Linked DNA regions of Homo sapiens: regions 1 and 3 are each linked to region 2. The links come from fine-mapping of genetic effects on gene expression. A gene starts in region 2. Each other region holds a variant in brackets. All regions are shown on one strand. Distances are between the middles of the regions.

Evidence for each region. PIP is the estimated chance that this variant, and not a neighbour inherited with it, causes the effect. A credible set is the group of variants that fine-mapping cannot tell apart.
Region 1: its variant is the best candidate, but not a certain one, in a credible set for the expression of RGS6 in lung (GTEx, PIP 0.89).
Region 3: its variant is the best candidate, but not a certain one, in a credible set for the expression of RGS6 in whole blood (INTERVAL, PIP 0.84).

The regions. Positions count from the first base shown.
Region 1 is chr14:72,038,502-72,049,415 of GRCh38, forward strand. All of the region lies in intron 2 of RGS6 (regulator of G protein signaling 6), which reads left to right. Among named protein-coding and RNA genes, the nearest start is that of RGS6, 110 kb to the left of the region's middle. The variant A/G (reference allele first, on the strand shown) is at 5,910.
Region 2 is chr14:71,927,214-71,938,127 of GRCh38, forward strand. RGS6 (regulator of G protein signaling 6) reads left to right here and starts at 5,216. Exons shown (of 18, transcript NM_001204424.2): 1 at 5,216-5,728. LOC124903404 (translation initiation factor IF-2-like) reads left to right here and starts at 4,713. Exons shown (of 2, transcript XM_047432046.1): 1 at 4,713-4,812; 2 at 4,956-5,677. The coding sequence starts at 4,713. The coding sequence ends at 5,677. RefSeq lists silencers at 5,005-5,284, 5,305-5,464.
Region 3 is chr14:72,544,721-72,555,634 of GRCh38, forward strand. All of the region lies in intron 17 of RGS6 (regulator of G protein signaling 6), which reads left to right. Among named protein-coding and RNA genes, the nearest start is that of MIR7843, 33 kb to the left of the region's middle. RefSeq lists an enhancer at 101-879. The variant C/CTT (reference allele first, on the strand shown) is at 5,414.

The DNA.
Region 1 (10,914 bases), 110 kb after region 2:
TACTATCTTCCAATTTTGAACATAGTATGTTTTTTTCATTTATTTAGGTCCTCTTTATTTCATTAGCATTTTATAGTTTTCAGCATACCCTCTAATTGTTTACATAAATATTTATTAGATTTATATGTAAGTATTTCAATTTTTTGGAATTGTTTTAAATATCATTTTTGGAGTTATTTTAAACAGCATTTAAAAAATATTTGGTTTCCAGCTCCTTATTGCTAACACATAAAAATATGATCCATTTTTTTACATGTACTCTACAACTTTGCTAAATACATTCATTAGTTGTAGGAGGTTTGTATGTATGCTATTTCTTGGGATTTTTCATGTAAACAATAATTTCATTTGTGAACAGGGACAGTTTTATTTCTTCTTTTCCAGTCAGGATATCTTTATTTCTTTTCCTTGCCTGATTGCTCTGGCTTGGAATTCCAGTATGGTGTGAAATAGGAATGGAGATAGAAGTTTGCCTTGTTTTCATTCACAGGAGGAAAGCATTCAGTCTTCATCATTAGATGTGATCCTTGTTGGTTTTCCAATGATATGTCCTTTATTAGGTTGACAAAAGTCTCTTTTTGTAGCAAATCTACATTTTACATGTCAAAAGAGGGAGTAGATGAAAAAAGTAAATTACATATTCATCTCATACTCAGTGAATCTACATTTTACTAAATAAGTTGAAGTAAACATAAAAAGAGGAAGCAGAGGAAAAGTCAATTATGCATTAATCTCAGGGTAGGTGAAGAGATAATTTCTGGTCTTGTCCTTGTCCTGTACCCGCAAAGATAAGCTGGTAGTTGACATTGTGAGGGTGAGAGTCAACAGAGCTCAGTTTTAGGGCTAGTTTATAGGAGGGATATAGATCCTGAACGATTTAGGGCCTCACGTTTATACTTATTGTATCTTCCCTATGAATTGGCCCTTTTATTGTTGTATAATGTCCTTTTTTGTTTCTTCTGACAGTTTTGACTTAAAATCTATTTGTCTAATATTGGTATAGCTACCTCTGTTCTCTTTTGGTTACTATGTGCATGGAATATCTTTTTCCATTCTTTCATTTCAGCTTATGTGTGCCATTATATCTAAAGGGAATCTCTTGTATACATCAGATAGTGAGGTCTTGTTTTTTAATTCCTTCAGCCATTCTGTCTTTTGATTGAGGCATTTAATCCATTTACATTGAAGCAATTACTGATTGGGAGAGACTTTCTGTTGTCATTTTGTTAACTGTATTCTGTATATGTTGTATCTATCTATTCCTCTTTTCCTTTTTCCTTTTTATTTGCTGCCTTCTTTTGTGTTTCATTGATTTTTTTTTTTTTTTTTTTGGTGACATGCTTTAATTCCTTTCTCATTTTCTTTTGTATGTCTTCTATAGGTATTTTCTTTGCGGTTGCTATGGAGATTACAAAAAACATCTTATAGTTGTAACAATCTATTTTAAACTGTTAACTACCTAACTTTGATCACATAAAATTCCTTTACATCCCCCGTCCTACTTTGTTACCAATCTTTCAAATTATACCTTTTTATATTGCATATCCAATCAAGCTTTCAAACTATATCCTTTTATATTGCATATCCATTTATAGAGTTTTATAATTGTAGTTATTTTTTAAGCTTTTATCTTTTAAATTCTATACCAGAATTTAAAATGACATACAACCTACCAGTACAGTATTACAGAATTCTGTATTTGTCTATATATTGACCTTTACCAGGGAGCTTACATTTTCATATGCTTTCATATTGATATCTAGGATCCTTTCATTTGAAGGACTTCCATTAGCATTTCCTGTAAGGCAGGTCTAGTGGGGATGAACTCTCCCAGCCTTTGTTTATTTCTCCTTCATTTTTGAGTGACAGCTTTTTTGGCCATGGTATTTTGTGTTGGCTTTTTTTTTTCTTTTAGCATGTTGAGTATATTATCTCACTTCCTTCTGGCGTATAAACTTTCTGCTGAGAAATCTGCTGATAATCCTATGGAAGATTTCATGTACATGATGACTTACTTTTCTCTTGCTGTTTTTCAAGATTCTCTCTTTGTTTTTGATTTTGACAGTTTGATTATAATGTGCCTCAGTTTAGGCTCTTCAGGTTCATCCTAGTTGGAGTTTATTGACTTTCTTGAATTTAGATGTTCTTTTTCCCCCTAGATTTGGGAAGTTTTCAGTCATTATTTTCTCCTTTCTCTCACTGTTCTTTCTCAGGGACTCTCATAATGTGTATATTGATCTGCTCAATGGTGTTTCTTTCTTTGTTTCTTTTTTGGCTTTGACTAGAAAATTTCAAATGACCTATCTTCAAATTCATTGATTCTGTTTTGCTCTTGATCAAGTGTGCTGTTAAACTCCTCTGGTAAATCTTCCAATTCAGTTGTTGTATTCTTCAGCTCAAGAATTTGTTAGGTTCTTTTTTAAAATAGTTTCTATTTATATTCTCATTTTATTCATTCTTCATTTTTTGGATGGTTTATTTTTTATTGCTGGTTGTCTGTACACCCAGTTAACTCTTTAAACTTCTTTAAGATGGTTATTTTGAATCCTTTGTCAGGTAATTTATAGATATCTGTTTTTCTGATCTGCTTTTGGAGATTTATTTTATTCCTTTGATTGGGCCATGTTCCCCTGATTCTTCATATGCATTGATTTTTGCTGGGATTTGGGCATTTGAAAAACAACTACAACAACCAGCTCTTCCAGTCTTAATGGACTGGCTTTGTGTAGGGGAAGACCTTTACCAGTCAGCCTGGCTAGAGATTCTGAGGGTCTCTGCGACCTTCTCTGGAGATGTGTCTTGTCTGGGCTTGCATGTAATTTCCCAATTAGAGAAGTTTGCTAATTTCTTTTTCAACAGTTTGTGTTCTCTTGCTTTCTCTGTGACACTCCACAGTACTGTAGGTTCTCCGGTACAGCAAGAAAACATCAAGTTCTTTTGTTCTCTGCAGCCCTAGATGTCCAAAGTATACCAGTTTCCCGTTAGAGTCTGTGTTAAGCAAAACAGAAACTAGTCTCTTAGGCAGCCCCCTGAAAAACTGGAACACTGGATGTGCATTCACTCCTCTTTTCCTCCCAAAGGAGAAGCTCTGAGTAGGTTGTTTTCTCCCAATTCATTGAGCTGTGCCAGCCTGGGGAAAGGCTAAGAATAGCAAAATAAAATGACTTTTCCTACCTGTTTTAATTCTGCTGTTCTTCACTTTGTATTTGCCTAGGGGCACTGTGGTTTCATAACTGGTTTCTGGAGGTCTTATAAAGGCATTTTGTACAATATATTGTTGGTAAGTCTGTGGGGGGTGGGCAGGGAATGAGATCTGGGGCATCCTATTTTGTAATCTTACTTATATCACCTCCCAGGAAGATCAAATTTTATACTTATCAGTGTATGAGAGTAGAAATGTCATTGTATTGGGGGGTCAGTAGATAAGATTCCATATCTGTTTCTATCACTAATGATAGAACTACTGCTAAATTATAAAAATGTAAAATGGTGCTAGAATAGAGATTAGAGTAACATATTTTTGAAACTTTAAAATCTGAAGGAATTTACTGCTTAACTTCTGCCTACTTTCAGGGTATTAATACTAGAGAAATTTCCTCTAATACTTTCCTTTTTCTTTTTCTTTTTCTTTTTTTTTTTTTTTTGAGATAGAGTCTTATTCTGTTGCCCAGGATAGAGGGCAGTGGTGCAGTCTCAGTTTACCGCAACCTCTGCCTCCCAGGTTCAAGCAATTCTCCTGCCTCAGCCTCCCGAGTAGTTGGGATTAGAGGTGCATGCCACCATGCCTGGCTAATTTTTTGTATTTTTAGTAGAGATGGGGTTTCACCATGTTGGCCAGGCTGGTCTCAAACTCCTGATCTCAGATGATCCTCCTGCTTCGGCCTCACAAAGTGCTGGGATTATGGGCATGAGCCACCGCACCCAGCCTCTAATACTTTTCTAATTATGAACCTGATGAATGCTTAGTAGGATATATATGTAAATCATCTGCAATTCATTCAACATGAGTAATTACTGTTAACATTTTATAGTATTTTCTTTACATTTTGTATGTATCTGTATAATGTATTCAAAATTATGTATATTTAAATGTTCTCTATACACAGATCTGTTTGCTCTCTGATCACCAGGCTTTATATAATAAACTTTTTTTTTCATGTTAAACATTCACTGGTTTTTCAATATCTGCATATTTTCCTAATAATATATTGCTGTAATATACCTCATTTGACCATGTAACCATATCTCATATTTCTATTTTGGGAGGTTATTATAAATATGGGGCCATGAAAATGTTTGTAGAAATATTCTATATGCTTTTAAAATATCCTGTTTTCTTCAAGTAGATTGCTGGAGATGGAATTTCTAGGTCAAAGAATAATGTGGACATAAATGATTTTAGAACTTTTTCTACCTTTGCCAGTTACCTTTGAAAAAGTGTGAGAGTGTTACATTGCTTTTGTTTCTCATGAATACTATCTTTTAAAAATTTTAGCTAACTTGATAGGTAATTTTATTTGTATTTCTTTGAACATTAATTCTGCTTCTGTGGCTTGTTTATTCTTATCCCCTTTGCCCTTTTCTTTATTGTGATATTGGAAATGTCCCTTTCAATTAGTTTTTACTCTTTATTTATTAAGGGTGTTAATACTTTTTTTAGATTTGTGGTAAATATTTTCCCCTGATTCGTAGTCTGCATAGCTTTTAATTGTCTTATGTTATTGTGGGTTGAAACTTTTATTTAGTCAAATTTGTACAACTTTCTTTAGTAACTTTTTTCCTTTGCTGTTGTGCCTGCAGTCACACACCATCCAGATATTAATCACCTAGATTTTAAATTTTCTATATATATACAAATTTCTGACTATACTATATTCCTTCTCTATGAATAACCTCTTTTAACATTTTTTTGATGGGCAAATTTGCTGGCAATGAATTCCCTCAGTTTTTGTTTGTATGAAAAAGTCTTTATTTTTTCTTCACTTTTGAAGGATAACTTTGCTGAATATAGAAATCTATGTTGGTGGACTCCCCCCATTTAACACATTAAATATTTTTCTCCATTCTCTTCTTGCATGGTTTCTAACAAAATGTCTGCTGCAACTTTCATCCTCTATAGATGTTTCCCTCCTTTTGGCTTCTTTCAAAATTTCTTATTTGACTTTGGCTTTCAGCAGTATAAATATGATAGCCCAGGTGTAGGTATTTTTGACATTTATTGTGCTTAGTGGTGGTCTCTAAGCTTCCTAGATTGGTATTTTGGTGTCTGTCATTTATTTTGGAAAGTTCTTGGTCATTATTCCTTCAACATTTCTTTTGCTTCATTCTTTCTTCCCCTTCTGTTCAGTTACACACATGTCGCACCTTTGCAATTATTCCACAGTTCTTGGAAGGTCGCTGCTGCTGTCACTGCTGCTGCTCCTTCCTACTCCTCCTCTTCCTTGTTCCGCTTCTCCTCCTCCTCCTCTCTTTTTCTTCTCTGCCCACCTCCCACTCTGTTTTCTTCTCTCTTTGCATTTTTATCTGGGAGGTGTCTATTGAGCTATCTTCAAGTTCTCTGATTCTTTCTTCAGCCATGACTAGTCTCCTCATGAGCCCATCAAAAACATTCTTCACTTCTGTTTGTCTGATTTCTAGCAATTCCTTTAGATTCTCTCTTACAGTTTCCATTTCCCTGTTGACATTACCTGTCTGTTCTTGCATATTGTCTGCTTTTCCCATCAGTGTTCTTAACATACTGTGATAGTTAATTTTAGGTGTCAACTTGACTTTAGAAGGGATACCCAGATAGCTAGAAAAGCATTATTTTTGGGTATGTCTATGAGGGTGTTTCTGGAAGAAATTGGCATTTGAATCAGCGTACTGAATAAGAAAGATCTGCCCTGCCCCAATATTGACAGGCACCATTC[A/G]GTCAGCTGAGGTCCCAGATACAACAAAAAGGGAGAGGAGAAATGAATTCATATTCTCTTTCTCTCCCCTTCTCTCTCTTCCTTCCTCCCTCTCCCTCTCCTTTTCCCTCTCTCCCTCCCTTCTAGAGCTGAGACATTCATCTGCTTCTGATCTTGAACATCAGAACTCCAGGTTCTTGGCTGGGTGCGGTGGCTCATGCCTGTAATCCCAGCACTTTGGGAGGCCGAGGCAGGCGGATCACTTGAGGTCAGGAGTTTGAAACCAGCCTGGCCAACATGGTGAGACTCTGTCTCTACTAAAAATACAAAAAAATAAGCTGAGTGTGGTGGTGGGTGCCTGTAATCCCAGCTACTTGGGAGGCTGAGGCAGGAGAATCACTTGAACTTGGGAGGTGGAGGTTGCAGTGAGCCGAGATGATGCCACTGCACTCCAGCCTGGGCAACATAGTAAGACTCCGTCTCAAAAAACAAAAAAAACCAAACTAACAAAAAAACCCAAAAAACTCCAGGTTCTCCACCCTAGGGATTCTGGGTCTTGTATCTGCAGTCCCGCAGTTTCTTAGGCCTTCAGCCTTGGACTGAGAGTTACATTGTTGGCTCTTCTGATTCTCAGGCTTTTGAGCTTGGACTGAGCCATGCTACCAGCTTCCCTGGTTCTCCAGCTTGCAGATGGCGTACTATGGGACTTCCCAGCCTCCATAATCAGATTTAATTCCCCTGATGAATCCCCTCTTGTCTATCTATTTATCCTATTGGTTCTGTTTCTCAGGAGAACCCTAATACACATATTAATCATAGTTATTTTAAATTTCCTATCCGATAAGTCCAGTATTTATCTGGTTTGATTATTACTTTGCCTCTTCAAATTGTTTTTTCTTGCCTTTTAGCATGCCTTGTAATTTTCATTGAAAGCTGAAAATAATGGATTGGGTAATAGACCTTTAGTATAAGGTTTTATGTTAATCTAGACTAGATTAATCACAGACTACAGTTGGCCTGTGTTTAGTATTTGCTGTAGCTGTAGGTGCCAGAGGCTTCAAATTCCTCTGGCGTCATTGTTTCAGTCTCCCCTGTTGTCTTTGGGATTCCCTAAGAACTCCTCAGATAGAGTTTGCATCTTGCAGCTCTTTTAGACGTAATCTAATGTAATCTGTTATTTTACTGGTGAGGTATGGTGCTAAGGTGTAGGGAAGGGGAAACATTCTGTAATCTTAGGACTACATACCAGTTTCTTAGTGGGCTTGCATTCATGGCCTATGACCTTCACAAGTGTTTCTTAGCTTTTATTTTCTTAAAGAAAAAAAAAAAAGCTCCCATAATGAGATAGGAAGGCTAGAGGGGGCCAGAGTAGGAGGAATGTCCTTCCCTCAGGTGGATAAGGCTCTGGTAAAGTCTTTTTGGATTCCACTCTGGAGAGTAGGCCTTTATTTTTGAAACTCCTCTGGGCATATTTCACAATAGTTACCATTAGGGATGGAATATTTGTGTCCCCCCACGCCCCCGCACCCCGCCAAGTTTATATGTGGAAGTCCTGACACCCAATATGAGTGTGTGTGGTAGGCTGCGTGTGGAGGTATTGGGAAATTCAGGTTCCCAAAAGTTTGGTCGTAGTGAAGTCCTCAGAGGTCTTCTTGAGTCTTTCCTTTTCTTCACCAAAGGCTCACTGACGTCATCCATCCTCCTGATGGAGGTCAAAGCATTAAAGTCATTTTTCTCCCTAGGAGCGTCTCCCCCATTGCCAAATTGCCAGGCTAGTATTAGGGAGAAATGTCCTCCCTGAATTTCATTGTTGGGTTTTTTTTTTTTTTTTTTTAAACCTTATTATGGCTTTAATGTTGAAATTTCTGTTTTGGACTTTTTAGCATGACACATACACACACCTCTCATTTTATTTTCATTGCTTTTTAAACTCCCATGTCCAATGTCTATTTTAATCTTATGTTTGGCAGCCTGAAACATTTTATTTCTAAAATTAATTCTCTAATTATACAACATCTACATGGCTTGTAATGACATCAGTAGAGCAGAATCTAGAATCCAACTCAAGGTTTTCGTTTTGTTTTTTAAGAGTAAGTAACTTATTTTGATCAATGTAGTAAGAGGAGATTGAAAGGTACCAGTGTGTGTGAAAGTGAATAGTTGCTTCCTCTCCCCATCTCCTCTTCTTCCTCCCCTGCTCCTCTCCTCTTCTTCCTCCCCCTCCTTTCCTCTTCCTCCTCCCCCAACCCTTCTTCCTTCTACTCTTCCTCCTCCTCTGCTTATTCCTTCATCTTAACTCATCCTTCACTAAAAAGAGTTATATTAGCATTAGAAGTATTCCTTAATGGCTATACTTTTCAGATATTATAACTTCAGAATTTTCTAGCCAATAACAGGATTCTAGGGCAAATGTCATGTAGGATATGGCTCTTCGAGTACCAACATGGCAAGAAATTGATTTCCTCTATTGAAGACACATTGATTTTCAGCTGTACTGAAAAACTCACAGCCTTCCAGTATCGACAAATAGTAAAAATTGACTTCACATAATAACACCTTTATTTACCTAGCCTTGTGACCCTCTGATTTTGTTAGATGATCCTATGGTGAAAGAATGCACCAGGACCAATGCTTGGACAAATAGTAAGTCTCCATTTTCTTTATAGTAGATGCTTCTACATAAAATTCCGCTTTGGGCAGTAACTTGCGTAGACAGCTGTTCTTGTGACACGACATAATGCACACTGAGCACGGTGACAGCTCCAGACGATGGTCTACTCTGGAGTTTCCAACTGGACTGGTAATCTACTGGATACTCTCATCTGGAATTGTCTCCTAGCTGAGTGGTTAAGCTATAGAAGCCCATGATTAAACAATGTTGTTTCTGGAAAGAATAATAGAAATGGTTATTATTAGTGAGTACTTACTGTCTGCCAGGCCCTGCACTAAGGGCTTTTTATGTGTTAGTTTTGTTTAATCCCCACAATATATCTAAGAGGTATTATCCCCCTTTTCCCGTGAGGACACTGAAGGTCCAACAGCTAATAAGTGAAGCTGGCGATATGTCCTGTTTTAGCTACTAACATTTATCAGCTTCATCATACAGACATACTTTGTCAGATTGGTTAGCCAGGCAAGTGACCGCTGAGAGAATGGGGCACAGGAGAAGTAAGTGATGACTGCGAACACAGGCTGGACAAAGATCACTTTCTTATACGAGTCTGCAGTTCTTGAAATAATACCTATCAGATATGGCATTAACAGTGATTGGTAGCCTTATCCAAATGCGATATTTGACTTTTGCCTTCATATCATGGTTTGAATTTACAAACTTCATTTCTTTTTCTTTTTTTTTGAGATGGAATCTCGCTCTTGTCACCCAGGCTGGACTGCAATGGCGCGCTCAGTTCACTGCAACCTCTGCCTCCCGAGTTCAAGTGATTCTCATGCCTCAGCCTCCAGAGTAGCTGGGATTACAGGCATGTGCCACTATGCCCAGCTAATTTTTGTTTTTTTTTTTTTTTTTTTTTTTAGTAGAGACAGAGTTTCACCATGTTGGCCAGGCTGGTCTTGAACTCCTGACAAACTTCAGATGGGGGCATTGCCTTAAGTGTATGATGCCCACCATTGAGGTAGACTACCACATGGTACCTGGATGAGCATCTTATGTTTCACCAAACCAGAAATTTCCCAGGCAAAGTGAACGGAACAAGAGAGACTGCGGATTCAGACGTTTCCTATGCAGTTATACTTCTGAATGGGTAGTCACAGTGTGTTCAAGGGTAAATGATAGCTAAATTATCACCCATCTTTAAATGTTTTCACTTTAACGGGGTTACCAAATCGCTCTTTAAACTTGAATTTCTATCAAGCTTCAGAACCATAAATGTTTTCTTAGAATTTTTCCAAGATTATCTGAATCAGTGAGTCCTTTAACTCACTTCTCCAGGTATCAAAAGTCTTTTAAGTCTTTTTTCTGCCAAAGGTGAATCTATGCTAACGCCTTCTAGTACTGATTCTCCTTTCCATTTTCCCATGCACCCTACTGCTTTCTGTCTCCCTTTGCAATTCAACAGAAAGAGAAATCATGAGGCAGTATGAAATGAAGGACTTTTCTGGGCTGATTTTCCTTTTGAATCAGAATGGAAATTTATGGTCATAGTGCTTTCCATGAGGTATTTAGAAGTTTCCAGTCAATCATTGCTCTTATCAGGGGTTCTTAAAGGCTTTGGGAGATACTAGGTTAGCTTTCTTACAATATAGGCTGCCCTTTGTTACAGCGACACTTTCTTTTTGCAGATTTTTTTTTTCTTAACAGAGAAAATTGAGATATGAAATTATTTCCTTAATCTCTACAATAATCAAATCATAATTATTTCTATTCTATTTTTTAAACTTTTAAATTTCACTAACAGTACATAGCCATTGCAGTAATTTTTTTAAAAAATAGAGAGGAGCTTAAAAATAACAAAAACCTCTATAATCCCATCACCCAGAGATGAGTTTTGGCCCCATTCATCTCACAAGTTCTGTGCAACTATTGCATTTCATGTTGCCTATTCATATTAAGAGAATAGCATTACTTTTATTATGATGATGATTTGTAAACAATTTCCCAGAGTTAATTCCCAGACATTTAAAAATTTTGGCCATAATTGAAAGTCAGGATTTTATCTTCTCAGTTGGAAAGTAGAAGAGAAAAGTATAACAGTGAAAAAAATTTTTCTTAGGTGTGTATTTGTGTTGGATTGTTCTAATTTCAAAACAGAGAAAGTTTTGAACTCCTGCTTTCATGGTTCATTCTTAGAAATAAATAGAATTGTTTTCCCAAGAAAACCTTGGAAAACTTTCTAGTAATAGCAGGAGGAATATGGGAGTAGGAAATGGCAAGTTGAAGGATTTTAATTTGGAAACTGCCACCTTTTGGAATACAGAAGAGCTGGTTATGGGATTGGCCCCTGGCTTTACTTGTCCTTAACATGGGCTTTGATAAGGGGAAAACAAAGTGAGGGCTTCGAGCCACAAG
Region 2 (10,914 bases):
CCATTTGTATTGGCTGTACATATACACATCCCTGCATTCTGATTATTAAGCATGGGACTTTGTAAATATGCATTGCACTCTGACATAACATTATTTCCAAGTCTTAAAACATAACTATTCCAGCACTGTGATATAAACACATTCATTCTCAGACACACGGTTTTCAAAACTGTAGATCAAGTGCTAACACTGGAAACAGAAAAAATCCACTTCACATTGCAAAGAGAAAAAAAAATCCACTTCACACTGTAATCAATTTGCTTGCCATACTGTCTCCTTGAGATGGGGATTATGCAATTAGTGGTAACAGAAATGCTGGGCATTCTATGAAGGAAGGGCCCCACAGGCTGTGATTCGCAAATTCTTGTTCAAAAGTAGATGCCCTGGTTCCATCATTAGAAATCGTGACTTATCAGGTCTGAGATGAAGTTCAAGAATCCTTTTTTTTTCTTTTTTTTTTTTGAGACGGAGTTTCGCTCTGTCGCCCAGGCTGGAGTGCAGTGGCGCGATCTCGACTCACTGCAAACTCCGCCTCCCTGGTTCATGCCATTCTCCTGCCTCAGCCTCCCGTGTAGCTGGGACTACAGGCGCGCGCCACCATGCCCGGCTAATTTTTTTGTATTTTTAGTAGAGACGGGGTTTCACCGTGTTAGCCAGGATGGTCTCGATCTCCTGACCTCGTGATCCGCCCGTCTCGGCCTCCCAAAGTGCTGGGATTACAGGCGTGAGCCACCGCGCCCGGCCAAGAATCCTTTTTTTTTAAACCTCAGAAATGATTACCATCTATTTAAGAAACAGATCCAATTTTGTTTATTTTTAATTTTTTAGAGACAGGATCTCACTATGTTGCCCAGGCTGGATTCAAACTCCTGGACTCAAGCAATCCTCCTGCCTCAGCTTTCTGAGTTAGCTGGGATTGTAGGTGTGTGCCACTGCATCTGGTTGTTCAAGACTCTTTATTGCTAAGTTTTAATAAGTACCCCAGGTGTTACTAATTCTGTGCCCTTTGAGCCATTCTCTGAAAGAACCAATTTCTAACATGTCTAATCAGGCATTTATTTTCTTTCAGGATTTAACATGAAGCAAAAGTGACCTGGAATCTTTTCTCCTTTTATTGCCAAAATGCAAAGAAAAGAGTCTTTAGCTCTCAGAAAAAGACTACATTTAAGAGTGAAAATAAGAAAATGTGGGAGTTTGAGGAAAAGTATCATCAGCTGTCAAATGTCATGAATGCGCAGTCTTGGTCAATGGGCCACATGACCCAAAACTCATTATCCTCCCCAAAGCCACCAATATCAATACATGCACCAAATGCATCGACGCAATAGTTTTCTACCTTGGCCTGTCAATGAAGTTATTGAAACTAAATTGCCAACTCATTTCCATTCTTCTGTTCAATTTATCACCCGTTTTGAGAGCTACGCCAATCAATTCTATTACACATTTTCCTGCAACTCCTCACTTGATAATGAAGTAATCAAAAGAATCAGGGTTTTACCTATAAATATTATTTCACTTGATACTTTAGATGAATTTCAGGATCCTTGCATGCAGTGTGCCCTTAATAAGTAATTGCTGAATGAATGAACAAAGTATTGGGCTGAATCACATTATTGTATATATTCACAAAGTAATAGATCAAATCATATTTTTAGTACAGCCAGTCATGAATTGATTCTTAAAATAAACCCATGGTGATCATTTTATAAAAGGGAAGACAATTTTTTTAATTTGGTAAGAACACTTATACTTTAATGTATGTTTTTTAACCTTTCATTTTGAAATAATGTTATAATAAATTACAAAAGCTATAAAAATAATTCAAAGAGCTCCCTTTCCATCTTCTGAGGGTAAGTTGCAGATGTGATGCCCCTTTACCACTTCATATTTCAGTTTCTCCTTCCTAAAAACAAGAACACTCTACTACATACCTTGAGTACAACATCAGGAAAATAACAATGATCCATTTTAATCCATTGAATCCACAGAATCCACTGATTGTGCCACAAAAGTCATTTATAGGTTTTGGATCCCATTCAAGATCACATGCTGCATTTAGTTGTCTCATCTCTTTAGCATCCTTCAATCTGAAACCATCTTTACTATCATAGTCTTGACATTTTTAAAGAATACAGGCCAGTTATTTGATTTTTCTTTCAATTTGCATTTGTCTGATGTTTTATCCTAACTTACATATTTATGCATAAGAAGTGACACTACATTCTCAGCATATCATATCAGGATGCTGCACAAGGCTGATTTGTCCCATCACTGGTTTTCATTTATGTAAAATTTTACCAGTCGATTAAGATGATACCTCCCAAGTATTACAGCTGCATGTTAATAAGTATGCTGTACTTATTAATAATTAATGATGTATTAATGAACATTTTTAGAGATATGCTTTGAGACTATGTAAATATCCTGTTCCTCATCAAACTTTTACCCACCAATTTTAGCATTTATTGATGATTCTGGCCTGAATCAATTATTAAGATGGTGGTTGCCAAATGGTGGTTTTCTAATTCTATCTTTTCTTCTTCATTTATTAGTCGCATTCTACTATAGAGTTCCCTTCTCTGTTTCTATCAGCATGGACTCATGGACTCTTATTTTACTCAAAGGGTTAAATTTGTCATTAACTATTTTACTCCTTAAATAGTTCAAGATTTGGCCAACAGGAACCCCTTCAAGCTGACTTCTGTCTTCTTTTGACATGTCTCCATAATTCTTTAAGTATTTTCTCATTTCCTTGCACAACAAATTATTCTAGTTTCATCCACTATACCAAGGAACTGTGGTTCCTTTCAGTGGAGGATGGTATTAAGAAACCAAGGTCTGAGTGTTAGGTGTGTTCATTGCTACTGGGGTGCCATTGCTTTTAGGCCTTCTCAGTCGACAAACCTAGGAAATATATCACCATATACACACACATATACACTTATATTTTTCTGTCTATCTATCTATAATCTCTTTGGATCCAAAATCATTTTACACCTTCATCTCCAACTTCAAGGCACATAGCTAGATCTCTTGCCTTTCTGTATTGGTAATTCCCTTCTCCAGCAGTGAGATGACTGGCTCCAATTTTCTTAATGTATTTACTTCTTTGCTCAATTCCCTAGCACATAAACCAATCTCTTGGCCATGTCAGCAAAAAATGTGTCCTGTCTCTATTACATACATATATATATAAAATACCCCCCACATACATACACATACATATGAAATCAGATATTTTATGTATAAGAAACCATACTACATAGATATATCAGGAATCCCATATAATACACAAAATGTATCAATATGAAAATACATATCTAATTCCTATAAATATCTGATTTCACATATTTTTTTTTAAAGAGAAGTACACAGTAAGGCTTTCTTCTGATGAGCCTGGAGCCTGCTGTTTATACTTCCACAGTATTATTCCTTCATGCTGTACTTGGCCCTCAAGGAGCTGCTAGCCTCAGAAATGCAGAGTTCCCACTGGGTGTGGTGGCTCAAGTCTGTAATCCCAGCACTTTGGGTGGCCAAGGCGGGTGGATCATCTGAGGTCAGGAATTTGAGACCAGCTTGGCCAACATGGTGAAACCCCATCTCTACTGAAAACACACAAAAAATTAGCTGGCAGGCACCTGTAATCCCAGCTACTTGGGAGGCTGAGGCAGGAGAATCGCTTGAACCTGGGAGGCGGAGGTTGCAGTGAGCGAAGATTGCACCACCACACTCCAGCCTGGGCAACAAGAAGGAAACTACGTCTCAAAAAAAAAAAAAAAAAAAAAAAAAAAAAAAAAAAAAAAAGCAGAGCTCCTCAAAGCGGAAGTTTCCCTAGTTGCTACCTTTCGCTCCATGTACAGCCTATTCTTTAACTGTGACAAACGGCCACAGCCAGCTCCACAACCGGCTTGAGCCAAGTATTGAGCCTGAGGAAAGAAAGATTTTATATTTCAGCTTTAATAAACAACTGGGACATCTGTTACAATTCTATTTTCCTCACTAGGCTGGGTATGGTTTCTCTTGGTTGCAGGTTTCCCCCCACCCCCCGCCTTTCTGTGTACTAAGCCTACCATAACACACATGTCTGCTTGTGTGTTATCCCATTCGACGTGAAGGCTTCAGGGCAGAGACTGCTTCCTTTATTATCCATTTCTAATGTTAGAAGAGGGTCTAACACAGAGCAGGTGCTATTTGTCTATTGAAGGAAAGAATGAATACATCCATTAATCAATGTAGAATGGCGGGAAAAGACACAATTTGGGAAGGAGACTTTACTCTTTAACTTCTGGACCCATGTGAATGAGGAGTCCAGGTCATCCATCGTTAAAGGCATTTAGGTATTTTATTTCAAGTATTTTTCCCCTTTTCTGGTGACATACTACAATTCAGGACTAAATCTCAAATTTATTCTTGATATTGATAGCATTGATATTGCACACAAATCCCACGGTTACCGTCCAGCACTAGTGATCTTGTCCTATTTCCACCTGCAGCTTTTTGAATCTAAGTACACATCGCATTTCAAAACTCCCACGTTAAAGAAAGGCATCAGTTCAAGTTACTTTCTCATTTTCTGTCTTCGACTTTTTTCTGCTTCCCCCAAGAATATCTGAGAGTTACTTTTCTCGAAAGTTCTTTTGTAGTGTTCCAGATAGGAATCATCCTGTAATATTCCAAATGCAGCGTGTGGTGTGCATGTTGAATACATAAAAATGACGAGGTTAGGAACAATATCGCTGACGGTCGCGGTGTCCCGTTTTAATTTAGAGGGCGCCAGCAACACGTCAGTGAGGGAGATTCAGAAGCCGCCGGGCACCTCACCCCGGGCCGGGAATCCCTAAGAGAACCTTGACGCCGCTGAAGTTTCCGGACCGGGCCAGTTTGGAATTGACGAAAGCAGCCTCCGCCCGGTCGAGCCAGTCTCTCGGTTTTCTCGGCGGCTTCTTGAGGATGAGGCATTTCTAGGTTTTCTCCTCCTCGAGCAAATCACGGTCTGCGCCTTCCGCGGCTCTGGGAACAGGTGAGCCGTGCGGCGGCGCCCGCGGGACGCGCTCAGGTGCCGGTCCCCGCCCGCCGGCCCCTCCCTGCAGCACGCGGTCCGGGCCCAGGTGCCGGGGCCCAGGTGCCGGCGCCCAGGTGCGCGGGGCACGGGGCTGCAGCTCCGCTCGGCATCCGACAGCGGGCGCCGCTGCAGCAGCTCGCGGGCCGCGGAGCTGAACGGCTTCGCGAGTTGGGGCAGCTCCTCGCGCTCGGCCCTGCTCGGCGGCGAGAGCTCCGCCTGGGCGCCGCGTTCCTACAGCCGCCGGAGCCGCCAGGCGCCGAGGGAACGGACAGACCTCCGCGCACCCTTGCCGACCGGGGCGGGCAGAGGCGGGCAAGCGGCGAACGCCTGGGAGCGCGGAGAGCCAGGCCAGCCCGGAGCGCGCCGGGGACACCCTGTGCGCCCCGAGTCCCGGCACCATGCGACCCGCCGCGCGTCCTCGCGGGCCCGGGGCTTCGCTCTTCGCTCGCTGAGCCCCTGCGCTCGCCACCACGGAAACTCGGAAAGAGGAGGCGAGGCTGTGGGGAGCGGCGCGGAGACGGACTAGACTTCCCCTCCGCCCCCAAGAGGCTGCCGGTCCCCGGTTCCCTGGGCTTCTCCAGCTTTATCATGAACCTGGCGCAAGGTTGGCTTTAGGAAAAATTCTGGAGCCAGAGGGAGAGTCAAGGCAATTCTTTGGTTGCTAAGGTAATTGTAGTTGTGATAAAAAATGGGCAAGAAACAAATGGGGGAAAAACATGGTTTAAAACAGTATCCTCCCTCCCCACCCCATTAATATGTGTTGATTTCATCTCCTGGGTGTGGGTGCTTGTCCATTTCAGATGCGTGACAGGTGCCCGTGTGTGTGTGTCTGCAGTTTGGGACTGTGGAAGCACGAGCTTACATAAGTGGTTAGGCAAGCTGGCGTGTGGACTTGTGTGGGATGGGTGCAGGTCTGCATATAAATCATGTTCCTGGGTTTCTGGGTGTGAAGCGCACACCGACGGGGACGAGAGCGCAGAGGATGGCGCTTTTAGATACTTCCAGTCTTCCGATGTTGTGATCGCAGGTAGGGCAGCTTTGCCTCTAATCAGGCGTTCATTAACTTTTTCCCTGAACAAGCTCGCCCATTTGTGGTTTGGAAGAAAAGAAAGCGAGTCTCCGCGGTGAGGTGTGGAGGGCAGGGGCGGGTGGGGAGGTTTGTTGTTTGGGAACTGCGCTAGCAAAGGAAGCGGTGGCTATTCGCTTGGAGAGGATGACAAATGAACTGGTTGCGTGAGGAGTGAAGAGACCGTGTTTACAGTCACCAGCAGGCTGCGTAAAGAAGTGGCCCAGTGAGACAGGGAAAGTGACCCAGAAAATTTAGTTTTGTTCAGAATGAAAGCTGCTGTATTTCATTTTTGTTTCTTAATTTGACGGAGTAGGAACGTTATTTTCCTTCTCTGTCATTGAGACCAGTAGCATTTCTATGTTACAAACTGAAGATATTTGGGGTCTCGTCGGCTTGGGATTATCAATGCTTGGGAGGTGAGTTCTGATCAATACCTTTAACAACCCCAAAGAAAAACGCAAAAATAATCAAGTTTAGGTAAAACTTCCACTGGACTTTCTTTCCAGGGAGGGTGAGAGATGGAAGAACTGGGCTTGTAAGTATCAAAATGGAGTTAGAGAATGAGCTACAAGTTTGTGTGTGTATGGTCTGTCAAAAAGTGTTAAGACTGAAAGGAAACTGTTAGGTTTAGTTAAATGTGTTGACAACACGGCTCTTACATATCAATTTTCATAGGCAAATAGGTAATTACATAGAGTGGGAACTGGGACTATGGTGGGAAACTTTCTGTAAGATGTATATTCTTTATTCTTAATTTATCACTTTTTCAATGGGTGGGACTACTCTGTGAAGGAAAGTAGAGGGCTGAGGGACATTTGGTGAGACTCTTGAGAGAGAAACCTTTGCAAGCCAAATCTCGCATGCTATAGATGATAAATTCTAAGTTCTTTGATATTGTACCACTCTTAAGCTAAATTGTCCTGTAAATATGATCTCATGCACCATAAACTATATATATGTAGAGAGAGTCTATTCCCAATAACTCATCCTTTCCTGAAAGAGTCTGCAAGTTCTATAAATGTCAGCTGTTGGGAGGTATTGTGATGAAGGAGAGAGGCCACCAGTGTTTCCTTTTATATATTTATTCTGGCAGATCTTAACTTTACTTCTGATTTTCTTTAAGGAATTTCAGTTAACATTCACTGAATTTATATTGCTGAGAGTTTCAGTAAAACAAGACTAGATTTTCTTTGAAGCAATAAATTCATCTTATCAAGTGAAACATTATGACAATGCTTTTGTGGCAGAAATGTTTATTTAAATGAGTCCATTTTAATTATTTATTTATTTTTGACTTGCAGAATAAGATCTGCAACATAGATGTTTTTGAAGTAAGTAGACGTTTCTTGAGAAAGAAAAATAAATTTAGGTTACTGTGGACAATTTGCCAGTAATTTTGGATGTCTCTTTGTCTACAGGGACATAATTTTGTGTGAAAGTAGAATCATTCCATTTCTTATGTCTCTCATCTTCTCCCATGCATTTTATCCCCTGAACTCCTAAGACTTTGCCAGGAATTGCTGAACATTCTGTTTCGTGCCAGGGGTTAAATATCAGGGGATGGAATAAGGAGCTGTGTGTCACATAAACATTTTTCAAAAGGATGCTGTCAGAGATCTCAATACCGGGATTAATTTTTCCTTTAGCTTTGCAGTTAGCTTGTCTTAATTGGTATTGCTCTGAACCTAGGAATGCATTTAACCTCTTCATTTTCAGTTTCCAGCTGGAAGGAATATATTTACCAAATTTCATCTTCTTTGTAACATATGGCATGATATAAATAATTACTATACACACACTATCCTGCTGTAAGGAAAGAAATAGAATTACAAAATCAACTTTCGTGTTGAGTGATATGGATATAATATTTCAAAAAACAATTTTAACTTTTCCCCTGATTCCAAAAGTAATATTTAGCTATTGAAACAGTTCAGGAAAATACAAAGAAAAAAATAAAGGTTATCCATAATCTGCTAGGGAGAGGGAGCCACTGTTAACATATCTTTAACTGTATATTCTTCCAAATATTATTCTAGTCAATTATTTCTACCCAGTCCCCCTCCCCCACACATTTTTATAAATATAAAATATAGCTTGGAAATATAACTTGGAAATGTGTTAAAGGCTTGGGAATTTACTGCTTGTTTACAGAATGATTTTGATCAGATATTAGTTTTTACTGGTGGTCCTTATTTTCAAAAAGAGTAGGTTCTTTCTTTTTCTGTTCTTTGAAAACAAGTGTTTGCACTTTGGGCTGGTAATGCTTGGGGCTTCCTTTTGAATTTAGGGATTAAAGCATCAGAAAAGAAGTAGAAAGGTCATTGGCCATTGTGGGTGGGAGACCTGAGTTCTGGTTGCAGTTACTCCAACTTCTCCTGTGGCCTCTGGGCCTCTGTTTCCCTAAAGGGCAAAAGGTACTTTTAGATTTAACTAATTAAGCTAATGACGTATTTATTGCTTTGACATGAGAATGATCTTTGAAGAGGGCTTATTCAAACACAGAAACACCTGGGGGTCATCCTGGGAGTCTCTGATTGATTCTGTCTGAGATGGGGCCCGAGAAGGTACATATCTAACAAGTCCCTGGATGATGCTGACTGCTGGTTTGGTGACAGTGAAAACTAGAGGGTTAAGTGTACTAGGGTTCTCTTAGAGGGACAGAACTAATAGGATATATATATATATATATATATATATGTACATATATATCATATATACATATATGCTATATATATGCTATACATGATATATATACATATGATATATGTACATATACCATATATCTATAAAGGGGAGTTTATTAAGTATTAACTTACATGGTCCCAAGGTCCCACAATAGGCTGGCTGTAAGCTGAGGAGCAAGGAGAGCCAGTCCAAGTCTCAAAACTAAAGAAATTGGAGTCAGATGTTTGAGGGCAGGAAGCATCCAGCATGGGAGAAAGATGTAGGGTGGGAGGCTAGGCTCATTTCTCCTTTTCATGTTTTTCTGCCTCCTTTATATTCGCTGGAAGCTGATTAGGTTGTGCCCACCAGATTAAGGGTGGATCTGCCTTCCACAGCCCACTGACACAAATGTTTAATCTCTTTTGGGCAACACCCACACGGACACACCCAGGATCAATACTCTGTATCTCTCAATGCAATCAAGGTGACACTCAGTATTAACCATCAAAAGCCCACCCCTTGTCAACTTGAACCCATACATATCTCCTGAGATCATACATAATCTTCAAATAAAGACAATAATGAGGTCAAAATTGTGCATAACATAATACAACTATCCTTTGTACAACCAGAAATGCACCAATCCCCAATGCAAATACTATTACATAAAGTTAACAATACTTACATGCTGTTGTGAAGTCAATAAATCTTATGTCACATGATAAAGGAAAAGGAAATGAAGATATTTTCTTAGTATGAGTGTATATATACACAAACATGTTTTTAACAAAAGAAGGAGGAAATACTCTTGACAATTACAGTCTGTTTCTGCAGCTGGTCACATGGTCGTAGCTGGTATTGATGACTACCTTCTTCTACCCATTCAGTATTCCTTTTGCCTACAGCAAGCACCTCAGCAGGTTCTTTTCCCTGGTGGAGTGACCCAAACCTTTATTCCTGAAGGATCTGGACCATTTGTAGTCCCGCCTGGATTGGGCTGTTGTAGTTTCCTGTTGACCTTAATCACAGGGCATGGTAATACTGAGAGATGCCCTAATGGATTTCCTGTGTTCCATATGTAGTCTTCCTTACCTCTGCTGTGGAGTAGTAGACTGATTTCCTCTTGATAGTCCAGGTCAATCATGCCAGCCAACACAGTAATTTTCTTCTTAGCCTGTTGACTGAAAGATAGGAGTATCCCAAACTGTCCAGGTGGCAATCTTAACTTCCAGTTTAATGGAATCGTTGTGTTTCCTGGTGGCAGTGTTCCTCCCTCTGGAACTAAGATCTCTAGGCCAGCAGAAGGTAATGTCTTGGGAACAGGAAGCAAAAATTTTGCTAGTGGATCAGTAGGGGTGATGGTGAGTGGTGCCACTTCCACTTCCGCCCCTTGATTCCTGGACCTGTGAATCCTGGCTATAGGAGAAACAGTACCATATATTGGATGCTGATTCAGAGCATACACGGCCCTCTGGAGAACTCTGCCCCAGCCCTGCAAAGTATTGTCACCTAGTTGGCATTGTAATTGTGACTTCGAAAGGCCATTCCACCATTCTATCAATATAACTGCTTCAGGATGATGGGGAGCATGGTAAGACCAGTGAATTCCATGAGCATGAACCCACTGCCACACTTCTTTGGCCATAAAGTGAGTGCCTTGGTCAGAGACAATGCTGCATGGAATACCACGATGGTGGATAAGGCATTCCGTGAGTCCACAGATGGTAGTCTTGGCAGAAGCATTGTGTGCAGGATAGGCAAACCCATATCCGGAGTAAATGTCTATTCCAGTGAGGACAAACCTCTGCCCTTTCCATGATGGAAGAAGTCCAGTATAATCAACCTGCCACCAGGTAGCTGGCTGATCACCCTGAGGGATAGTGCCATATGGAGGGGTCAGTGTTGGTCTCTGCTGCTGGCAATTTGGGCACTCAGCAGTGATCATAGCCAGGTCAGCCTTGGTGAGTGGAAGTCCGTGTTGCTGAGCCCATGCATAACCTCCATCCCTGCCACCATGGCCACTTTGTTCATGGGCCCATTGGGTGGTGACGGGTGGCTGGGGAAAGAGGCTGAGTGGTGTCCACAGAACAGGTCATCCTATTCACCTGATTATTAAACT
Region 3 (10,914 bases), 620 kb after region 2:
AGCCAGCTGCCACTCAGCCTCCCTCGCCCCCTCCTTCCATCCCCCTGTTCCTTCCCCTGCCAAAAGCCAAGGAAGAGCTAATGAGAGCCAAGAAGTCAACAGCTCACTCATCCCCCTCCAGGCAGCTCTGCAGAGAGAAACTCCCAGCTCCAGGCCCAGGTGCTGACCGGAAGTGGAGGGCTAAGGCTCTCCGCAGGGGAGGGGGCAGGCAGGCAATCAGGGCAGTCAGCCAACCGGCAGAAGCAGCTCCTGCCCCCAGGAAGGCGGTGTTGTTTTCCCCTCCTCCTCAAGGTTTCATGGGGAACAGCCTTGCACCCTGGTGGAATGAGTTCCCAAATACCTAGACTCAGCAGAATCCCCAGAGGGCTTTGACCTCAGTTGAAATGATCTTTCTGTGCCTCTGGCAAGGGCCAATTGGCTAAAAATCTTTCCAAAGGGTTAGTTTTTATTGCAAACAGTCCTTGGACTCCTTTGGGACCACTGGGTCACAAACATTAGTGCCAGCCTCTCCCATCTCAGAGCACTGAGATCCAGCTGCAGTGAAACCCTGGCCCTGGCTGGAGCTGGAGGGAGACTTCCATCGAAGTGTTTGGGAAGGAAAGCAGGGAAACCTGCCTCTCTGGAGCAGCAAGTGCATGTCCTGGGACTCTGAGACACCTCAGCAGCCCTCCTGCAGACTGGCTCCTGCTTCCAGCCTCAGCTTGCTAGCTATGTGACCTCAAGCAAATCACTAGCCCTCTCTGAGCCCTGGTTTTCTCCTCTGAAATGACTTGGACTAGGTCGTCTCGATGGTCCCTTCCAGCTAGCGGTGTTCTGCAGGTCTGTGCTTCCCTCTGTCCTGAGATTTCTGAGTTATATAACTCATTCCTTAGAATGGGAGAGGAGCTGTCTTCTTGCCCAGTTAGTTACCTGATTCAGAAGTGCCTGCCAGCCTGTGAGGCTGGGAAATAAACTGTGGATAGACTTGAGTTGGGTGTATTTACAAAGCCTGGACATGCACTGGCAGGAGAACTGAGTGCCCCAGGCTCCCCACACCTACACCACAGGCCCTGCTCAGTTGTTCAGGGTTCACTCGTCCACGGTGAGTCGCCGGAGGGTCAGGGAGGACTCACAGAGAACAGGGTGAGTGCCCTACACCCTTCAGCTTGCCAGTTCTGCAGTCCCCACCCTTCCGGTCTGGATGCCCAGCTGTGTGTGTGTGTGTCAGGTGGGGTCAGCTGGGCAGAAAGGTGGACCCCAGGGTCGGTGTTGCCGCATCACTGCATGCACTGTGGGGTCCCAGGGGCCCTATGGGTATAGGAAGGAATGAAATGTGAGCACTTGGGAATCTCAGCACACTCTGCTGCTCACCTGCTACCAGGCTTTCTGGTTCCCCAGGGAACCCTGGGCCAGCTTGTTGCTGTCCTCTTTTAGCGATGGGAAATAAGAGTATGAGAGACAGTGTTATCCTGTTTACAATCAGTGGTGAAGTCCGTGGTTAAGACCAGGTTACAACTCCTCTATGCTTCGCTTCTTATCTTGACTCTGTGTGAAATTAGGAAAAGCATATTTACTGTTATAGTTTTGTAGCTGGAAAATGAAAATATAAAAGTCTATTTTTTATAAACTACAAAATGTAAAACAACAGACTCAGTATGGCTGGTGGGTACAGAGAAGACAAAGTGGCTCCTCACGGGGTTGACAGGAGTCTCGAGACTTTTATCAAAAAAGGCCAGAAGTTGGTTGTCATTTTTGAGACACTGGGCCCTAGACCCTGACGTTTCCGTTGGAAGGAGGAGCCCCCAGCTGTTCCCGCTGATGGTTCAACCTGTCCGCCAAAAGCAGCCAAAATGCTCTCCCCACGGAGTGCCCACTTGGAGAAAAACCCCACTGGTGACTCACCTTCTGGACATGTGGGGCAATCAGGGCCCGGTGGAGGCAGCTGCTCCTGGCTTTCCCTGGTGGGCCCTCCCTCGACCCCCGCCCAGGCCCTCTCCTGCCTTCCCCAGACCCCAATGTGCCAAGCAGTCAAGTGAAAATCAAATCCTCTGAGGCAGAAAGACACAGCTGTGTGTTTACAGCCACTGATTCAGATCCAAATCGCGTACCCTGCCAGTCTCTAGCAAGGCAGGCTGGGGGCAAAGTGTGTGTATGCCAAGCAGGGATCTATTTCGGGAGGTGACCTGCAGGCCTTCGCCATGACAGTGCCTTCCTCCCACCCACTCTCAGGAAAGGTGCTCTCACTTTACAAGCGGCTGATGGGGTTGTGGGGTCTCGGCATGCTTGTCACTTGTGCAGTCAGACCCCAGTGCCATCCTCGTGCAGCCACATGGGAACTGTGTGGGCTCCCACCTGCCTAGTAAGAAGGCAGAGAGTGAAGGGGAGTGCAGGGCCCCCCGCAGGATAAACAGCGGGAAGGCCGACCACTCAGAAGACAGGATGCCCGCCTCTGCCTAGGACAGAGCCTGCCTCAGTCCTGTCCGGGGAGCAGCAGCACCGCAGCAGAGGGGGCCAGAGAAAGAGCATCCAATGGCAGGAGTCTGGCAAGGCGACAGCACTGCCAATGTCACGGTCAAGGAGAGGAGACCCAACTCTGCCTGTGGTCCAGACTGGAAAGTTCAAAGAGAAGTCAGAGAGCTTCAAGTCTGAGGACTTCAAAGGCTAAGAAGTAAGACCCCCCCCCGACCCATGGAAGTCCCCCCAAAATGAGCTCCTGGTGGAAACAACAGGGGATGCTTCCCCCTTTTAAAATAGTGATGAGTGTCCCTGGTTTGAGTTGAGTTAGGAAAGCATGACATTTTGGAAGGAGGCCAGGATACCTGTCCATAGGTAGGAATAGCCTGTAAGATGTTGCCCTCCTGCAGTGTGGCTAAATGGGACACTGCCGGGGGTGGGACTCAGAGCAGTGGGATTTTTAGTTTTGTCATGTTTGCCCAAAGGTGGATGAGAGAAAGACCCTTGGGTGTTTGCTTAGTGGCTTCCCAATGGGTGGGAAGGTGAGACGGGGTTGGAAGCATGGAGCCACCCCAGCAGTGGCAGGGCCACAGGGCAGCGGTTCTTCCATGCCCCCTAATCATGGCCACATTGTATCAGCCTGAGCATGAGCAACAGCACCATGGCCACATACGGGAATGGGCCTCATTGGTGTAATATTTGGCAGATTCTCTCCACACCCCCCGTGGCGGTCTGGCTTACTGTTAAGAAGGGTAACCTTAAAAAATACATTTCCCACTCCAGAAAATACTCATATGTGGCCTGTTAGCAGCACAAGAAGGGTGAAAGCAATGCCCATTCCTGCCTCCCTCCCCCTGCTCACCTCCACGTCCCTGTTTGCCCCTTTGTAGGTGAAGTGAGTATATTCAGCGTCTTCATGGCAGGGGAGAGGGTGTATTAATCCGTCTATGTCCGCTGGAAAGGCAGTCTCTGAGCGGGCCACAAGGGTTCAGCCATGGCCCATCCAATAACCTTTTTGATGACTTGGATGAAGAGACAAACATTCCAACCACATTCAAAGATCCAGACCTCCAAAGTGTGGCTCATTTGGTAGATAATGGAATTATATTTGGAAAGCATTTCCCGCAGCTGGGATGATGGGTCAAAAACAGATAGCATTTTACCAGATCATATTTGTGTGTGTGTGTGTGCGCGCGTGTGTGTGTGTGTGTGTGTGTGTTTTAAATTCAGTTTCCCAACTACAGGATGGCATTTGTAGCCTTTCCTAAAAATCAAGTTTAAAAAAAAAAAATTTCTTGGGTTGTAATTGACGATAAGCTTAGTGTAAGCAAATGCAGAATGCAGCTGCTTTCCAAAGGGCAGCTTTAGGCTATATAACAAAAGTGGGAAAGGAAAAGTGTTCCATTGCTTTTTGTTGCTCTAAGCAATATTAAGTCTTGGTTCTAAGCCCCCACATTATCAGGAACTTTAACATCTAGAGACAATTGAGAGAGAAGAGCTAGAGAGAGAAAGTGACCCTGGAAGCCACGTCGGAAGAGGCTGGAGTAAAAATGTCTAGCCCCCCAGCAGACTTGATGGCCACCGTGAGCTCTTTGCATTTGTCTTCAAGAGTGGACACTTCCGGGTTGCTCCAGAGAGCAAGGCTAGAACAAATGGCTAGAAGATAGATAGGTAGATACTAAAAATATTCTAACAATAACAGAATATTCCAACAATAGACTATGTCCCCTCAAAGGGCAACGAGCTCCATGTCTAGCCGTTTAGAAGCTGAATGGCCAAGGATAGTGCAGAGTAGGTTTCTACACCAGATCCCATGATCTTTTGCAACTGGAATTCTATGCTGCCCCAAATACTTGTTAAATGGATCCGACTGCATTTCATTCTGTGGTTTATAAATAAGTCCTGGAAAAGGAGAATGAATTATAAGGAAGGAGTTTGCTGAGATTGGAGGAGAGGGATCTGAAAGACTCAGGACTAGACTCCGCCTTGAGGGAGAAAAAGCCACAAGATGACACACTCAAAGCAAGGGAAACCGTCAGGAAGTGGAATTACTGCCCTTCACATGTCATCCTTGCCTTCTTTTCTGTTTTTTGTTTTTTTTTTTGGCATTTGCTGCCGCAGCAGCTGAGCTCTGGGCAACAGGGCTCTCTCTCCCGAATGTCTGAAAGGAGGTCAGCAAGTGGAGGACACAGGCGCCCACTGGCACAGGGCATTGGCAACCATCGTGCAGTGAGCCCCAGCACAGCCAGGGTGGCCATGTGCGTGGGGCGTCCTGGCCCAAGGTTGAAGAAAACTCATCCTGTCATAGTTCCCATCCGGAAAGGGTGTTTTGTTGAAAGCAAAAAGGATCATAAAGTCATTTGCCTTTTACCCAATGCCAGTTCCAGATTCCAGGTAAATGAGCTAACATCAAAAACACCTCAGCCGGCTGGGCGTGGTGGCTCACATCTGTAATCCGAGCACTTTGGGAGGCCGAGACAGGCAGATCACCTGAGGTCAGGCGTTCAAGACCAGCCTGGTCAACGTGGTGAAACCCCGTCTCTACTAAAAATACAAAAATGAGCCAGGTGTGGTGGCACATGCCTATAATCCCAGCTACTCGGGAGGCTGAGGCAGGAGGATCACTAGAACAAGGGAGGCGGAGGTTGCAGTGAGCCAAGCTTGCACCACCTCACTCCAGCCTGGGCGACAGAGCAAAACTCCATCCCCATCCCACAAAAAACCCCCCAGAGACCTCGGACTGAGGAGAAACTATGCCCCCACCCTGGCTTCCCTCCTCTAGGGCCCTGCCAGGGGGACTTGTCCTCAGCCCAGCTCAGGGAAAGGGAAGGGTTCCCATGTCACATTCTTTCCAGCTGTCCTAAGAACCACCCCGATTGCCGATGACACTCCCTCCTCTCTTGGGCTTCACCAGGGCTGCTTTCAACTCATCGTGGGATTGTGTAATTATGGTGATTACAGCTTGTGACTTTTTTCCTCT[C/CTT]CATCTTTTGCTTTCAAATTCTTTGAGGCCTCTCATTAAACATGGCGATCCCGGTAAAGTCAGCAAAGTTTTAATAAGACACTTTTTACAGCTAAAGAAAGCCCAGTCAGGGTTGATTGCTACTATGTTCTCTCAGATACTCCATTAAAACTCTATCAGGTGCAGTTGGTGCCTAGGTATAAGAGGTGGGGGAGAGGGAAGGCAGGGAGGCAGAGGGCACCTGTACTTAGTGACAGGGCTGGAGAACCATTCCACACCATGCCCCTGGCTTTTTTTGTTTGCACTAAGCACCAAGTACATCTGAGCCCCCGTGCCTAACAGGAAAAGACAGACTGTCAAGCAAGGACCGAAAGCCTGGCCTTAACATCATAGCACATTACACTGGGAAATGGAGATGGAGCATCCAAGACAACACTTAACCCAACCTTGTAATCTTCTGCAGCAAAAGTGGTGGGGGAATTCTGATACGTGCTCTGTCCTGGTTAATACTAGAAGGTTCTGAGGCATCCATAATTCTAAATAATTAAAGGAGTCAATCAATCACTAGCCTTTGTGAGTCATCACAATCCGGTGGTTTTACACCTGATGGAGGTTTTACACCTGATGGAGGTTTCCTTGGTAGTGATTCAGCTTCACATCTCATTCTTGGCTAATCTTTAATCATAGCTTGCTTGCTTGCTTTTTGTTGTTGTTTTGGTTTGGTTTTTGGGGGGGTGTTTTTTTTGAGACAGAGCCTCGCTTTGTTGCCTAGGCTGGAGTGCAGTGGCGCAATCTCAGCTCACTGCAACCTCCACCTCCCAGGTTTAAGCGATTCTCCTGCCTCAGCCTCCTGAGTAGTTGGGATTACAGGCCTGCACCACCACACTCAACTAATTTTTGTACTCTTAGTAGAGACGGAGTTTCACCATGTCAGCCAGGCTGGTCTCGAACTCCTGGCCTCAAGTGATCTGCACACCTCGGCCTCCCAAAGTGCTGGAGTTACAAGTGTGAGCCACCGTGCCCAGCTCATAGCTTTCTTGAATAGTTATCATAGCTGTAGGACATCATGAGAAGGACCATCAAGGAGTGTGGCTTGTGTGTGTGAGCCCCGTGACCCACCCTTCAGCAGGTTCATCCAGGTTCCCCTCATTTCTATATTCCCTGGGGACTACACAGATGCCCGCACAGTGAAGTGCATCTTGCTCCAGCAGGACTGTGTTTCTGAGAGGTCCCTGATTGGCTGCTCGTGGCTGACCGTCCCATACCAACCAGACTGCCTTTTACCCTGCAGGTAGCCAGTTACCTCACTACCTGTGTCTCAAAAGAGCAAGGAGCTGGATTGTGACTGAGCAGCACCAACCACCTGGAGTTAAATGTCAAAAACGTGGCAGGGACATTTCCCCCAACTGCATTCCCATCCACTACTGAAGGTGGCCTGCTCGTGTGACCCCTTGAGAACAACGGTCCCTTTAGTACCCACCAGAATGCAGAGAAGTAAGCTAAGTTCGAGACAGGCAACCCCAGCTGAATCCCTTTTTCTCCACCTGATATTATGTGACCCTGGGCAAGTCACTTGCATGTCTGACAGGTACAACAAAGCCCACTGCACAGGGTAGATGTTGGCATTCAATGAGGATGTGATCACAAGAGCTGCCATTTATTGGGAGCTCACACTCACAGTGTTGGACTGTGTCATGCTGGCTTTGCCTGGGATGGACTTTGGTTCTACTTCAGCTCCATCACTTAGTTGTTTGAATTGCACAGCTTCTCTAAGCCTCAGTTTCCTCATCCATAAAAGGGAGATAAGAGTAAATAAGTAGGAATAAAATGCATAACGTCCTTAGCACACTGTGTGCAGTGCGTGTGCTTAACAGGTGTAGCTCTTAGAATCAGTTTCATCATTATGATATTATTTGCAGCTCATACTTAGGCTGCGCTTATTACCTTATTTAATTTCCAACAATATTCTGCAAGATAGGCATCATTATATACATCTTGTGGTTGAGGGTGGGTACGTGGGTATCTCCTATATGACAGTCTGCACAAGGTGCATGTATTACAGAGATCAGCTCATGGTAACTACTCAATAAATGGCAGCTATGATTGTTGGCTTATTTTTAAAGTCAACTCAGAGAGTTAGTTTTTCTGCATTTCCTGGAAATGAAGGGACTGTGGTGCCCAGCAGGCCAGCTTCTGTTCTATGGTCGATTTCCTGGGGCCCCTAAGCACTTCCCGGGAAGCTGTGGGAACTGGGGGGCTTGTCAGCCTGTAAGGTGCTGGGAGGTGGGGAGGGCCACCAGGCAAATGGTGCACGTGTTGTGGGGATCTGGCATTTGGCCGCCTACTGAGTTGAAGGACTCGAAGGTGCCTCCTGCTACCAGAGACAGATAAGGAATGGGTCTACCCAAGATAAGAAGATGAAATCCACTCCTCCAAATGTAGCCCTCCATGTGACAGAAACACTCACCTCTCAGCTGTCTGCTTGCCTGGAGCCACCCTGAGCAATGCAACCTCAACAAGTCCAGTTGCTCCGTCAGTCCAATAAACAGAGGTTTCTCTTTTTTAACCACTTATTCCAAAGCGAGGTAGTGGAGGAGTCAGAAGCACGTGGCAGGGGATGCTTTGAAATTCCTTGATAAACCGGACCCCTGGGGTGGGCACTCCTACTGCCTATAGTACCGACAGAAACAGAAGTGGAGAAGTTGTTTATTTCCAATGAGGTCAATAAATGCCTTTTTCATGGGGGAGAATTCCATTTTTATATATGTATTTTAAGGTGAATGCTTTAAGTTTGCAGTATTTGTCAGAGTGGCATCTTAGGAGCTGATAGAAAACTCTACAGCCAAACAAGCGATTGCCTGTGCACCTTGCATGAGATGCTTCTGTAAGTGCCTGTGGTCTCAACATGCACATGAACGCATGCACTGGTGTATGCACATGTGCACAGGTGTATACACAGGTGCATGTGCCGCCTGCCTGATGTTCGCCTCTGTGTTCAGTGTATGGTGTGCATATAACCATAAGCTGCAAACCTGCAAGTATCTCTGTTGCATGGATTGCATGCCCTCTGCAGCTGTGTGTGTGTCTGGGCAGGGGCTCCTCTAAAGCCACAGGTCTTCACAGTTTCAGCTGGATAAGTTATTCTTCACTTCCCTTCCTAAAAACACAATTGCCTAGTGCTGCTGGCGCAGAGTCAGAATGGCCGCTGCATTTCACCCCCGAGGTGGCTTCCTTCCAGCAGTGGGTGAGTGATCCCGGCGTTCGCACACTCTCTAATCTGTGGAATCCTTCTGCACAGAAGGTGTTCCAAAATCCAAAAGAGATGATCTGTTTGTCCATGGCATCGTCTCTGCCCACCACTCCTGTTCTCATGCCCTGGTTCCAGGGACAGTCGGCAGCACCCATTTCTTGGTGTCTCTGTTTTTTCTGCCCATTTTTTGTACCCATAGTTTTTCTCTCCTAAGAAACAAGGAGCTGAGGGGTCCAGAAATGATGCTGAGATGAGTCCCTTGTCCCAGAGGCAATGTGCAGATAACATCCTTAGATATTGACCCAGTAACTCTCTTCTCCTAGTCCCATTCCCTAGCAGAACAGGGAATACCCACTACCTTTGAAGATGCTTCTAAATCCAATAACAGCATCCTTAGGCTTCATTTCCTGGTGAAAGCTTCCATAACTCTTCCTCTGTGGGCCCTGGGCCAAATCCTGCAGGAAACGTAGCAATCTCACATTTCTACACACTACACCATCAGGGGAGAAAAAAGCTGGGAAACCGCCCATCCTCTGTCCCATGGGGACCAAAAGCATCTCAGCAGCACGTGAAAAGAGCCTGTAGGGAAATAAGGTTCTCTGTAGCTAAGAGTTCCAATGACCTAAGTTTCTGTCCAGGTATCTCCTGAAAACGCTGCTTAGTCTGTTCCCTGGTGTACTTCCTCCGGTTAGGAATCCATGTCTGATAAGTGCCTGCTAAATTGCATTCCTGATAGTGGGGAAGAAAGAAATGAGCCGGCCCTCTTTGCATATGCATCCAAATGGGCATGGACATTCACTGAATTGTTATGCTTTTGTGGGGGGATGAGAGGTCAGCAATTCTAGGCTCCGCCTTTTCAGCTGGCTAAACCAAGGACCCCAAGAAATGTACGTGTTTTGGGTGAACACATTTGCAAGAGATAAGTGTCCTCAGGAGGATGGGGTCAGAGTCCTCATAGGTCCTCAGGAGAATCACATACTGCCAACCAAATAACTTTCTCTTGCCGCTTTGTCCACAATATCAAGTAACTAAATTCCAGCTTCACTGTCTCCCGTAGTCATAGTCAAGGGTTACTTGAATTTCCTAGTTGGAAAAAAGTAGCATCAACTTGTTGCCAATAGCAACACAGCCATGTCCCTGTTTCCTAGAGCCTTTTGGTCTTTGCCTAATTTGGAGTGAACCAGAGCTTAGATGCCAGAGTCCATTTGGGAAGGAGGAGGAGAAGAGGAACAGGCGGGCATTAAGTGGGTCACAGGAAGGCATGCCACCGAGAGGCCTTACAGGCAGAATGCCACCCTCATTCCACTCCTGAAGCCACCAAGAATTTCCTGCAAGCTGAGAGAAGAAAGAGCAACAGGGTTGTTCCGTCAGATGAGAGGAGGGAGAGAAGAGAGAGCTGGTGTGAAAAGGGGGCATTTCCACCACACAGGGATGCAGAGTAGCAGGGAAAATGGAGATGCACAACTTGGACGCGAGACCGGGGAGTCTGGACCTGGCATTCTGCCACTCATGTAGGGCTCAGCTGCTGAGTCCTTGTCTCTCCCACCATCCCTACCCAGCTCCGGATTTGTCCCTGCACAGCTGGGGGGCCATGGAGAAAGGTCCCCCATCACTCAGCAAAACTGACAGGCAGAAGAAAGTGATGAGCATGGTGAGGCCAGGGTCAGAGATGCCAGGAACACCAGCAGGGAGGGCTTCCTCCACCTGGCTGGGCACCCCGAATTAGGCACTTGGCCTAGAATGATTTAAAGTGGGGTTGGTTTTCATTAGAGTAAGGCCACCCTGCCTGCCCCACCTTAGAAAGGGAAACATCACACCTGCTCCTGTCCTCCCTGGGGCATTTGCCATGTGTGTTCCTAGAGGCATCAGCATCAGTAACACAGGGCCACAAACAGAACGGTGGGTTCACCCAGCCTGTCCAGCAGCTACCACCTGAAATCTACATGCACCAAGCCATGGTGACCTGCACCCCAGCTCAATGCAGTAACCAAAAGCCCCTTTTGCCAGGCTTGTCAGCCAGCAGATGGCACCTCCTTTCTCTCAGGATTTCCAAATGGGATGAGGGGAAGCCGCTTCGCAGCATAGAACCTGCCTGAGATAAGCTCAAGCATGCTCAAGAACTTAAGTTCTTTTCTCAGGGAAGTTGAGAAAATCACCCTGCATTGCCCAGAGAGGTTGCCCAGTACGGGTTGGGCACAGGGGACTCCTTCATCCCTGAGTGTTTCCATCTGCCTCCTTCCTTGAGAGTGACAGCCATGTGCAAAGTAAGAGG